Linked DNA regions of Homo sapiens: region 1 is linked to region 2. Evidence: fine-mapped expression QTL. A gene starts in region 2. The other region holds a variant in brackets. All regions are shown on one strand. Distances are from middle to middle.

The links. PIP is the estimated chance that this variant, and not a neighbour inherited with it, causes the effect.
Region 1: its variant is the best candidate, but not a certain one, in a credible set for the expression of TDRD3 in whole blood (TOPMed, PIP 0.76).

The regions. Positions count from the first base shown.
Region 1 is chr13:60,454,499-60,457,304 of GRCh38, reverse strand. The region is part of intron 3 of TDRD3 (tudor domain containing 3); the gene reads right to left. Among named protein-coding and RNA genes, the nearest start is that of TDRD3, 59 kb to the right of the region's middle. The variant C/T (reference allele first, on the strand shown) is at 1,618.
Region 2 is chr13:60,395,997-60,398,802 of GRCh38, reverse strand. TDRD3 (tudor domain containing 3) reads right to left here and starts at 1,583. Exons shown (of 14, transcript NM_001146070.2): 1 at 1,398-1,583. The coding sequence starts at 1,438. RefSeq lists enhancers at 732-781, 1,662-1,861, 1,711-2,223, 1,932-2,261, 2,592-2,661 and a silencer at 952-1,521.

The sequences.
Region 1 (2,806 bases), 59 kb before region 2:
AAAGCAAGGTAGAAAGGAGGTATTATTTATTAGATCCTCCTGAGAAACCCACAGATTTTACAGAATCTCTTGTCACTTCTTAATTTGAATCATCAAGCCTTAAGTTAGTAGTTCCACAATTCAGAAATATTCTATGAGTAAACCAGTAAATATAACGATTTTTTTCATTATTCTGCTTACAATATTCAGTTTCTTATACTCTGTAGTTAAAACATAGGGAAGTAATGGACCTAGATAAAATATACATAATAAAATTTTTTAAATGTTATGGTTCTAAGATCCTAAATCCTGAATCTAAAATCATCTTAAGGCTGGGTGCGGTGACTCACACCTGTAATCTCAGCACTTTGGAGGATGGAGGTGGGTGGCTCGCTTGAACCCAGGAGTTTGAGACCAGCCTGGGCAACATAGGGAGACCCCATCTCTACAAAAAATACAAAAATTAGCCAAGCGTGGTGGTGTGTGCTTGTAGCCGCAGCTACTTGGGAGGCTGAGATGGCAGGATCTCTTGAGCCTGGGAGGTGGAGGCTACAGTGAACCACGATTGCGCCACTACACTCTGGCCCAGGTGACACACATACACACAAAAAGGTGTCTCAAAAAAAGTCATCTAAAACATCCACAAAAATAGACAAGAATTAATTTCTAAATCTTTCTTCAACTACTGTTAAGAGCAACTCCAAAGTAAAAAAAATACCAATTTCAAATGAAAATAATAAAAAGGATTAATCTTGATCACCCAAGTCTTCTTTAATGTCTGATTTTCTCTTTTGTATTAGTAATAAGAAAAAATCAAAAGAAATTACTCTAAAAAATTTTAGTGGCTTAGAAAGATGTATCATTGCACCTCCAGGTAAGCATGTCTAACTCTAACAAACAATATTAAGTATCTGCTAGAAATATTCTCTCAGGCCATTAATCCAGGCATCATTCCTTCTTCTCCTGAGGTAGACGAATACCTCTGTCATCTAAACTCCTAACTAGTCATACCAACGGATATGAAATATCAGATTTAAATGGTTGTGTTAATTTATTAATTTATTGATCATACTAAATAACATTCTTGTCTATCAATCAGACTCCAAAGTTTGGATGACAGGGGACTAATTCTCTACAGTATAATCACATCTGGATAAACACTTAAAACAATTTTTTTTTCTTAACTCTAGAAACCATTTAAGACACTTAACCTGAAAATACATGCCAGCCATTAATCTTTTTTTTTTTTTTTTTTTGAGACATAGTCTCACTCTGTCACCCAGGCTGGAGTGCAATGGCTTGATCTCGGCTCACTGCAACCTCCGCCTCCCAGGTTCAAGTGATTCTCCTTCCTCAGCCTCCCTAGTAGCTGGGATTACAGGTGTGAGCAACCACACCCAGCTAATTTTTCTATCTTTTTTAGTAGAGATGGGTTTCACCATGTTGGCCAGGCTGGTCTCGAACTCTGGACCTCAGGTGATCCACCCACCTTGGCCTTCTAAAGTGCTGGGATTACAGGCGTGGGCAACCATACCTGGCCTGTTTTTGTAATCTTATTAATTCTCTTGAGAAAGAAATTTCTCAATCTGTATACCTAACAACATAAGCATCACACTCTCCATCAACCCTAGAAACAAA[C/T]CATACACCCAAAAGGAATATATGAGTGTGATTCAGTTCCAATCAATGTTCCACCATTATTGCAAAGTAGATTAAAATTAAGAGAAAATGAAATAGTTTAATCTTCCATAGTTCTTTTATCTACTTAAAGTCTTAATTCATTTCCTTCTCTACCCCATCACTACTTCCAAAAGCATTTCCAGTGGCTTCAGGGGAGATTTCCTAGGGATCATTTTTTCATCCATTCTTTTATTTCAAGGGAGGTTTTTGACTAAATTATTCACATCTTTACCTTAAGGCCCATTGCCCTTAACAGGGCAATGTTTCAAGAAAGCTGCCTTGGAAGAAGAAATACTAATTCTGCCTATAGCTGCTTTAAAAGCCTGAAAGATAAGCTTTAAATAGCACTTATGACGACCTCTTTTTTACCTACTTTCTCTGTCAAAACATCTCTTAGTATCATTTCAACACAATTTGACTTTAATAAATAAATATAAGCCAGGTGTGGTGGCACACACCTGTAATCCCAGCACTTTGGGAGGCTGAGGTGGGCGGATCACCTGAGGTCAGGAGTTCCAGACTAGCCTGACCAACATGGTGAAACCCCGTCTCTACTAAAAATACAAAATTAGCCGGGCGTGGTGGCAGGCGCCTGTAATCCCAGCTACTTGGGAGGCTGAGGCAGGAGAATCGCTTAAATCCGGGAAGGAGAGGTTGCAGTGAGCCGAGATCGCGCCACTGCACTCCAGCCTGGGCAACAAGAGCAAGACTCTGTCTCAATCAATCAATCAACCAATCAATCAATAGAGGTGGGATAGGAAGAGAGAAAAAAATAAAGTCTGATTTGTCACATACACCCTGTACCATTCTACGTATGGTATCAGACCCAAGAAAACAAAAATAAAAAAAAAAAAGAAATATACATTGTTAGAAATTTCAGAAACATTCCCAATGTCATCCATGTACGCATCTAGGGTGAACCCCAATTTGGGCTACATTTCCCTCCAAAGAAGATGTTTGCTTCTGGCAGTAACAACACTGCAACTAAGAGTTTCAGCTTTGGGCTGGTGGCCAAGGGGCAAAGTTAACCTTAGCCAGCACTTTAACTCACTGTAAGTCAAGTAGCACCCCCACTAGCTCAAGGCAGAAAGAAGCACATATCCCTTCTAAAAACAAAACAAAACAAAAAAGCATTTCTGATTCAAGTGGC
Region 2 (2,806 bases):
TCTTTTACGCCCATGCTGTTCTGCGAAAAAACTGTAACAACAATAACGCATAAGCGTTAAAGGAACCAGGCCCAGAGCCAGGCCCTCTGTGCTCAACATTCAACTCCACCACTTTCTAGCTATGTCATTTTGGGAAAGTTACTTAACAGCTCTTTGCCTCAGTCTCCTCACCTGTAAAATGGGGTGTATAATAACACAAGTGCCTTTAAAATCAGGAGGGGCTTCTTCAAAGCACAGTTGTGATTATATCCCTCTACTGATCAAAAACTTTATTCACAAAATCAAATCCACATCTTTCACGAACCATATAGATCTTGTGTAGGTTCTGCAAAACAATAAGCGCTTCCCTGTGTCATCTCCAGCAGCTCTGTGCTAGAAAGCCTTTTCCTTACCATCTTTCCAAGTCCACTTTAGGAAAGTAACTCTCCCTCCCATTCCACAGTGCACTCATCTGTTCCTCTGTACGTACGGTTTATCACTATTCCCCCTGGTTTTGTTTGGTCTTTTAATGCCTCACTCTTTCTCCTAAAGCAGTAATTGCAGAGAGCCGTTGCAAATCTTTTTCATCCCCGTTCCTACCCTTCATCCCAGAATGTGCCTGTGCAAGCCTGGGAAAAGCGTTACTGAATTAAACGGGATGATTACAACCGTAATGGCCGCAATTCCAGAAACTGCCTAATTTCGCATAATTTTGTATTGTTTTCAAATCCTGAAAATCTTGACACGAAAGGCCTCTTAAAATCAGAACACCATCCTTTCAAGAAAAGTTCTACCGAGCACCCCCACGAGTTGACATTGCGGTCATTCTTAGCTCCAGAAGTTGTGTGTGTGCCGCGGAAGGCAGATTCACACTGGTCCACACTGTACTTTGAAATAAGGGGTAAGAAGAGGCGGCTCCGGCCGCAGCGCGGGCTGTGCTCTGCTCTGCCCTCAACTTCCTATGGGCCCGCGGGCTCCGGCCGCGTTCGTCCCTCTCCGCCGCACTTCGTTCCCAGCCCTCGCCTCCCGATCCCGCTGCAGAAACACCCCCTCCCCGGAGAAGCCGCGCGGACGGCGCTGCAGGTCCTCCCCGGCGCTCCGGTCGGCCGGGGTCTGGGCCGCCACCCGCCCGGCTCGCGGCCCCCGGCCTCTCCCCAGGCCCGCCGCCCGCCGCCCGGGGCCCAGGCCCGCCGCCCGGGGCCCAGGCCGCCGCCGCCGCCGCCTCCAGGGGACCTAGGGGAACTCGCAGGGCTCCGCGTGGCGCCGGGGGCGGAGCCGGCCCGAAGGGCCCGGGGAGAGGCCGGGGGCGGACGACAGCCTCCGCCTACCCCGACACGCACCCCGCCGCCCCCAACCCAACCTCCCTGGGGCCCCGGCCCGCACCCGCGGCCCGGCAGCCGGCGGGACTCGCCACTTACCAACCCGCCTGGGACAACGCCGCGCCGGCCACCTGGGCCATGGTAGCTGCTTAGGCCGGGGGTGGTGGGGGGCTGGGGTGGGGGTGATGGGGAGGCCTCCTACTTGAGACCCCCCCCCTTAAAAAAAAAAAAAGAAAAGAAAAGAAAAAACTCCTCTGGTCGGCTCTGCAACTGGGCATGCTCAGTGCGGCCGGCGCTTCCGCGTGCGGGTTCCGCTCGCCGCGTTTTCTGAGCGGCCGTAGGGGCCGGCCTGGTGTGGGGCTCCCAGGCTGCGGAGCTCCGGGACCTGATCCACCAAACACCGGCTGGTGGCTGGAGTCAGGACGGTTCAGGGACTTTGCCTCTTCCCCGAAGGCTTTTACTTGTTTTGGGGGGCGCTTTTCTGAGTTGCACACCTTGGAAAGTCGCGAGGAGGTTCTTCGTAGAGCAAAAGTGTGGCGTTTGCAGCGCCCACAGGCGGCCACCTCAGAGAGGGCAGGATAAGGCCTGAGGAGACTGACGGGTTGGCTGCGAGGGAACGCGTCCAGGACCGCGCTAAAAAGGTCACGTTGCGGGCAGCAAAACTCAGAGGTGTCCCCAGCCCATTCTGCACAAAAGTTTACTTTCTTATAAACACTCGTTCCCTTCACCTCGCCTTTTGGTCCGCCCGGACGCAAAGAAAAAATGCAGCTCAAGCTTTTTTGAGTCCCCGCGGGCAGATCGAGTTGCCCCAGTCGGACACCACAGTGAAAATGCCCTGGTCAGCCCAAGAAAACCTGCTTTTAGGGGACATGGGGAAATGGGGCAGTTGTGTCAGTGCTTGTTTTTCCTGTTGCCCTCCCCCTGGGACCATCCGTGTCCTAGCGCGGCCCTGCCACCTTGGCTCTGTACTGCCAGATCTGGCAACCACAGCCGCTTCCCCGCCGATGCCCTTCGCCCGCGCTGTAGAGGGCTGGGGCGCAGGGTGGGTCCCTGAGTGGGCATGCGCGCCGCCGTCGCCCAGCGGCACGGCGGACGCTACCGCGCGATTGGGCGTCCGTGACTCACGCTGGCCAATCAGAGAGGAACAGGCGGAAGGGTACGCGGGCCCAAGAGGCGCTCCCTAAAAGTTTGCTCCACCTTCTTGGTCTTTCACCTCTGCGGCGTCCCGTATTGCGGGGAAAAAGGCTTCTAAGGGGCAGCGTCCCCATCTGCCAGGTCAGGGGAAGAAGACTGTTAGGAACTTAATCCCTATCTCCGCCGCTTGCCGCTGCCCCTGCTTCTAAGGGCATCATCAAAAACAGACTTGGAGCAGAGACTGCGGAACTGGGCAGAGGCGCTCTTGGGATTGGGGAGGAAATTGGCAGTTACGGAAGGAAGGGGATAATTGCCCTGGGTGGAGCTAAAATTCCTTAATACAGATTTTTCTCATTTCAGCTGGGGTATTCCGT